2 linked regions of the Homo sapiens genome follow. The protein of the gene in region 1 interacts with the protein of each later gene in a pairwise test. Each region holds a gene or a part of one and is shown in the gene's direction. Other genes may lie near its edges.

The links. Proteins that work in one complex are often made in the same cells at the same time.
Region 2: the proteins of CTNNA3 (region 1) and ZNF19 interact in binary tests that used the Homo sapiens proteins (3 or more experiments, as listed by UniProt).

The regions. Positions count from the first base shown.
Region 1 is NC_000010.11:67,220,521-67,224,272, reverse strand, and holds part of CTNNA3 (catenin alpha-3), read left to right. Parts: intron 1-3,752. UniProt on the Homo sapiens protein: May be involved in formation of stretch-resistant cell-cell adhesion complexes.
Region 2 is NC_000016.10:71,475,593-71,479,344, reverse strand, and holds part of ZNF19 (zinc finger protein 19), read left to right. Parts: intron 1-339; coding exon 340-466; intron 467-1,003; coding exon 1,004-1,117; intron 1,118-3,072; coding exon 3,073-3,752. UniProt on the Homo sapiens protein: May be involved in transcriptional regulation.

The DNA.
Region 1 (3,752 bases):
GCCAGGGGTTGGCATGTGGGGGAAACGGGGACATATTGGTCAAAGGGTATACACTTTCAATTATAAGATGAGTAAGTTCTAGGGACCTAACTCACAGCATGGTGAAGACAGTTAATAATAATGTATTGCTTACTTGAAATTTGCTAAGAGAATAGATCTTACATGTTCTCACAGCACATACACACAAACGCAAAGGGTAACTGTGTGGTGATGGATATATTGATTAATATGATTGTAGTAATCATTACACAATGTATATGTATATGAAAGCATCATATAGTACACCTTGAATCTACACAATTTTTATTTGTTAATTGTACCTCAATAAAGCTGGAAAAAAGATTCACATTCTCTGAGAAATTTTATTTAATCCCTTCAAACTGAGAGACTGTCCTCTATGCTGTGGGTAACTCTATTTTAGTTCCCATGTAAATGTGTTTATTTGTCTCCCCTCCTGATCTTTATCTTTGCATTTCCAACATTTAGCACACTGCCTTGATGCAAAGTCGAGGCTCAGCATAGGAGAGGCTCAACATAGTACAGGTTGAAGGAATGGTTGAATTAATTAACTGATAGCTTAAAGCCCTCCACTTGTATTTTTTAAAATAATATTCCTAAATATATTTTGTTCTCTTGCCAGGGTTAAAACTCATATGTTACTTCTCTACCCACTTGCACAGACTTTAAGGTCTTTTTAAATCCCATCTGTGTGTTTCTTCGTCAGCTGGAAACATTTAATGTCTTCTTAACTTGGAAATCTCCTGTGAGCTTTCTTCTGGAGCATTTAAAAAAAGATTATAAATAAGTATCAATCCTTGAGGAGCTGAATTCTTTATACTTCTCCATCCAAAGAAATCCCTGATTAACTTTACTGTTTAATGCCTATTTTGACTTTATGTAAAATTTTAGGGTAAATGGACAAACAAGAACCTTTGAACCTATGGTATCATCAGTTAAAATAAAACAACTACAAACACCACTACCACAACATACATTTAGGAGGTGACAGTCATTAATTTCTCTTTTATCTGTGTGCCTATTTACTACATTAAGTTTATCATGCTTGATGTCCTTTGGGAGAAATGGTCATGCCTTGTCAGTTTTCCTTACATAAACTCTGCCACCTGCCCCTTTGCCCCTGTCCACTGCTGTAACGTTATATTTGTTATGTTCACTGATCTAGTCCTTTTTCGCAGGCGTCAAGGACTTGCTATTTGGGCTCATGGATTCTGTAATTGCCTTGGGCAGAGATGACAAAGCATAGGCTCCAAATTCAAAATACATTTGTATTTTTAACATTTCAAAGTCCCCATGGCATTAAAGTTACTACAATTTACCATCAGATTACACATTGCTACCATTAGAGCAAAAGAAATAATTTTAACTTTAGCTTCTTGATTATAATCTATGTTCAAGTTTTTCACCTTTCAGAAACAAACTAAACCTTGACACTGTCCTTCTAAATAAAGAAGCATAATGTATAGGTCACTTCAGAGAGAATTATGTATTAAGTTGTGATTGTACAGTAATATCAGAGAATTTGCCTTACCTTTTTCTAAATATTTATACTTTTAATTATTACTCATCTGAGGAGCTGTGCATCCTTTCTAAACATTAAACTATTTATCCTCTAAGTTACACTGATGACTGTAGGTAGAGCTTGTACAACGTTGTGGGAAATACAAAAATCACTAAGATTATCAGTACAGAAACAGTACACCAAGTTTGACAGATGTAAGGAATAAAACAATTCCGTATTCTTTCTACACCTTTTCTCTATTTTCCACTTATATTCCATTTCTGATGTGCTATGTACTCAATCTTGTGAGAGGGTCGGCAGAAGTATCATTATCCCATTTTTACAGATAGAAAGACAGACACCGAAAGAGATGAGTTACCTAGCTCACAGTGCTAATGACAGAACTAAAACTAAAACCCAGACCACATATACAAGGGGGAAATCGTAGCAAGCCAAGAAAACCATAGTGTCTTTTCTTGGGTGATTAGTGACTATGAACAGTGGGTTGATAGCTACTTCTAACTGTCCTCCCTACATTTTGTAACGAAGTTAATCTCTCCAAAGCCTGAGTGAAGTAGCAGACAGTGTTTATTTTCAGAAGGGAAGGAACTAAAAATATAGTAGCACAAGCCATTTATTAACCTCATGCAACATTATTCCCAGAGTAGCAGAGTCTTGTGAAAAGGCATAAGGTTAGCAATCAGTAGACTTAGGTTTAGATCTCTGTTCCTTTACTAGTTTCTATCTCCTTGCACCAAACACCTGTTTAGTTAAAATAGGACTAATAATAGCAGCCTCATTCCCTCAAAGACTATTGTCATGATCAGTAAGATACTGTATAGAAGCACTTTATAAGCTACATGATATTATACAAATACAAGTCCTCATTCTGTGTAGCAAATAAGAAATTTTTCCACTTTGGGAGGCCGAGGCGGGCGGATCACAAGGTCAGAAGATCGAGACCATCCTGGCTAGCATGATGAAACCCCGTCCCTATTAAAAATACAAAAAATTAGCTGGGTGTGGTGGTGGGTGCCTGTAGTCTCAGCTACTCAGGAGGCCGAGGCAGGAGAACTGCATAAACCCAGGAGGCGGAGCTTGCAGTGAGCCTAGATCGCGCCACTGTACTCCAGCCTCGGCGACAGAGCGCGACTCTGTCATAAAAAAAGAAAAAAGAAAAAAATTTTTCCTATGTAGGAAATAATGTCACATAGTTTTTAGGATAAGGGCTTGGAAGTTATACTGACGTGGGTTACAATACAAGAAATACCACCATCTAGCTCTGCCACTTGGCTAAGAAACTTAGTCTCTTGAAACCTTAGTGTTTTGAGTTTTAAAATGGGAATAATCACATCTCTCATGAGTTTTTATAAAGATTATATGAAATGTTGTATATGAAGTGAATGAACTATTGTAAATGTCCCTTGAATTAGTTTTTTTTAACTTAAGCTTTTATTTGGGAGTAATTTTAGATTTACAGAAAAGTTGCAAAGGTGGTACAGAGAGTTCCCATTTACCTTTTTTCCAGTTTTCTCCATTGTTAATGCTGTATCTTACATTTGCCACTACAAAGAAATGGATACTGATGCATTGCTATTAACTATTAATAATGGTTATTTGGATTTCAGCAGTTTTTCATGAATGTTTTTTCTGTTCCAGGATCTAATCCTCAGTACCACACTGCATTTAGTTATGTCTCCCCAATCTTCTCTGTTCTGTGACAGCTTGTCAGTCCATCTCCTGTTTTCCATGATGTTAATGGTCTTGAGGAATACTGCCCAGGTGTCATTTAGGATGTTCACCAATCTCATTTTGTTTGTTGCTTTTCTCATGATTAGACTGGAATTATGGGTTCCTGGAGGGAATACCACAGAAATGGCATACTTTTCCTGTCACAGTATATCAAGGGGTACATGATATCCATGTGATATCACTGATTATGTTAAATTTCATCACTTGGTTAAGGTAGGGCTTGCCAGATTTTTTTCTTGTATATTGAGCTAGTTCTGATCGCCTATCACTTAGACAGGGCATTCTCTTTCCTCTCTTCTCTCTGATGTAATGCTATTCATTTACATTTACTGCAAATTGTCATCTCTGAAGAAATACCTTCTCGGACCATTCAGCCTAAAGCAGCTTTTCCTTTCAAGTCAATCTCTATGACACTTCACTTTTGTGTTTTCTTCATAGCATTTATTGTCACCTGAAATCATCTCGTATATTTGTTCATCTA
Region 2 (3,752 bases), on another chromosome or scaffold:
AAGTAAAAGACTGAAAATATTTACTAAATCAAAGAGATTTTTGCCCTAGGAAGGTTAACTAATAAGAGACTTTTTTTCCTAGGGTTTAAAAAATGTTAAATCACATTTTATGACAGTCAATTTTATATCCTAATGGAATCTCTTCTGGTAGTGAGAGAAGTTCCAGATTTTTCGTTGTAAAAATAGTCATATAATGGTCTAATATCCAGTTCTGTCACATTTTCTCATTACCTATCCCTCACAGGACTTTCCCTCAAGTCCCTACCTGTCCCCTCTGCCCCACACTCTGGCCCGGAGCCAGAGGATTGGCTCTGGGGCAGCAGGAACCTGTTGTTTTAGGAGATGGTGACCTTCGAGGATGTGGCTGTGCACTTCACCAAGACAGAATGGACTGGCCTTTCTCCTGCCCAGAGGGCCCTGTACAGAAGTGTGATGTTGGAGAATTTTGGGAACCTGACTGCTTTGGGTAAGGCCATTTTCCTCCTAGGACTCAGATCTGTACTTTTCCAGTTTCCTTCCTTCTTTTACAGCCTGGGGGGAGGAGTGTGGAGTGGAGAGGAGAGGTTGTCTCTTGTGTCCTCCACTGAGTGACTGCAGAGCTGAGGCTCAGTGACCAACTTCAAAGATTGCTGGGTAGGGAGAGGTCTTGGGTCACTTTGGTCTCCCAATGAAGGGAATTACTGTCCCCTGGTAAGAGTATGTTCCATCTTCCAAGAGGCTCTGCACAGTAAGGAATAAGTAGTAGTTGTTGTCTGGGGAAGGGCATGTCCCCTTCCCTGTGTTTGCTCATGCCTTGTGGATCTCACTGACTTACTTATCCTTGAGTGTTTTTTTTAGGAAGAAGTCACAAATGCTCAGTTTCCTGTTGATCGGAATCTCTTTGGCCTTCTCCAGTCGAGAACCCTCTTCTGTGGGTCTTATTCTTACTGAGACTCCTGGGGTTTTCCTTCTTTTGACACAGCAGATACAGGGCTGAAAAGTACCATTTTCTTCCTGTTTTCAGGGTACCCAGTTCCCAAACCTGCACTGATCTCACTTTTGGAGAGAGGGGACATGGCTTGGGGCCTGGAAGCACAGGATGATCCCCCAGCAGAGAGGACCAAAAACGTCTGTAAAGGTAGGTGAGGCAGATTTAGAACCAACAATTGTAGCGTTTTATGGAGCACTGTATTTTAAAATGAATCATGCTGGGCAGGATTTAAATAAAATAGATGATTTCACCTAATAGGTAAAATATGAAACGTTTCTCACCAATCTTAACTCTTACCAACATGTAATCACTCAGTACGTCTCATCTGCAATCCTTGAATCCATTGTTCCTTTCTGAGTTTCAACATTGCCTACCTTAGTTGTCCTCCTTGGTTGGGATGGATTTATTCAGGAGCAGTTTTTGAGCAACTTGCCATGTGCTGAACGTTGTTTAAGAAGTTCTGGCAGGTACAAGTTATGGAGACAGATGTAAAAAGCGAAAAAGAAAAGTATTAAGTGCTGTTGGGAGTGGGACGGAGAATGTGAAGGTAAAATGGGCCAGATCTTCCCAAAAGTTGGCCATAAATGGGGAGAGCTGAGTCAGATAACACTAGGAAGTCATGGCATGGGAGGAGCTTTTTGAATTCATAGGAATTCAGAGCTGAGCACAGGGCGTGAGGTGCCTTTAGAATAGGCAAGTGGATGGCTAGAGCAGGCCATTGAGAAGGTGGGTGGAGAGTCTGAGATAAAAGGCAGGTCTGAAACAGTACTCTAACACAGCTGGGTTGAAACGATCCCCAGGAAGAAAAAATGAAGGCTGAATCTTAACCATTAAGGGATATTTAATTTCAGTGAGAGAAGGAAGAGAAAGTAGACAGTCAAATAGATGGGGGCCACCAAGAGCAAACAGTGAAATTGAAGGCAGAGGCAGGAGTTTCAGTGCAGGTGGTTTGCAGAGAGCAAATACGTGGAAAATAATGAAGCTAGCACAGCACTTCAGCCTCTTATTCTAAGAATCTGAAAAAGAATCATCAAGACAATTGAGAACCTGTTGGTTTGTTCTCACACGCTTCCTCTGTCTGGTGATTATTCTTTTTCAGACTCTTGGTTACCTTGTTTACTTCAATCTCAGATTACTCTCCTCTGAACATTCTCCTTCGGAGTTCCCTTACTCCTTTAACTCACACTCATAGGATGAACTTGATTAACCATCACATGAGTCCCAGGTAACCCACATTAATGTTAAAACCAAGCCCATCATTTCATATAAAATGGATTGACTTTAACTCATTTAAAATGTCATCCAATCTTTTGGAACACAAATGCCATTTTATGGGCTGTTTGTCTCCTTTTTGCTGATAGGAGAAAGAATACTCTCAGTCTGGGTGTGTCTAAGTAAACTGTTCATCCCTTTTCAAATAGAGAGTCTAGGACAGTAGTTTCTCTGCATGTTTGAGGTTCAGCAGTTTTAGGGCGTTTCCTCATCGTCTATAGTCCATGTGTGGTTCTGCAGTTAAGAACCTCTGAACTAGGTAATCTTACAACATATTGGGAATAATACTCTCTAAGCACTTCTGTGATTTTCTTTCTCTCTGTCTTGCCACAACCCAGTGTCTGTAATGTTCAGTGTCTTAAGTCTTTTGGGACATCTGCAGGGTATGAGTTTTTAAAAAGAACAACAATTCATCCTTTGCCTTTGCTTTCTGATACTGTTCTGTTTCACTTTCTGATTCTAAGTCTTGCCAGCCCCGATGTCACTACTTGTTCTTAAGACCTGTGCCTTCTTTGGCATTTTGTAGGCTGTAAGTAGCATCAATTCAAAAGATACTAGCTCATGCCAGGGATGACCAGACATCATTCAAATATTAGAGTAGAAAAGCTTAGGAAGCAGTCTCGTGTGTTGTGTCCACTGATACCCTGTTCCACCTCAATGTTCTCTGCCTGTGTGATATTTGGCACTTTCACTTTAACAGCCTTTTCTTCCCAGCATGCTGATGTGAAAGTTGAAATGATCTCTTTTAAAGCCTTATCATTTTCAATGCTCTATTATTTCTAGTATAGTTCTCAGGTGGCATTATTTGTGTTTTCTATCTCTTATGTCAGATGTTGAGACCAACATTGACAGTGAGTCCACATTAATCCAGGGAATTTCTGAAGAAAGAGATGGGATGATGTCACATGGTCAGCTGAAGAGTGTCCCTCAGAGAACTGACTTCCCAGAAACACGTAATGTGGAAAAGCACCAGGACATCCCCACAGTGAAAAATATCCAAGGAAAGGTTCCAAGAATCCCCTGTGCAAGGAAACCTTTCATATGTGAGGAGTGTGGGAAATCCTTCAGCTACTTTTCTTACTATGCTAGACACCAGAGAATCCACACTGGGGAGAAACCTTTTGAGTGTAGTGAGTGTGGAAAAGCCTTTAATGGTAATTCTTCGTTAATTCGGCACCAGAGGATTCACACTGGAGAGAGACCCTATCAGTGTGAGGAGTGTGGGCGAGCCTTTAATGATAATGCAAATCTGATCAGGCATCAGAGAATCCACAGTGGGGACAGACCCTATTACTGTACAGAGTGTGGGAATAGTTTCACGAGTAGTTCCGAGTTTGTTATACATCAGAGAATCCACACTGGGGAGAAACCCTATGAGTGTAATGAGTGTGGCAAAGCTTTTGTTGGTAATTCACCCCTACTTCGGCATCAGAAAATCCACACTGGAGAGAAACCCTATGAGTGTAATGAGTGTGGCAAAAGCTTTGGAAGGACTTCCCATCTAAGCCAA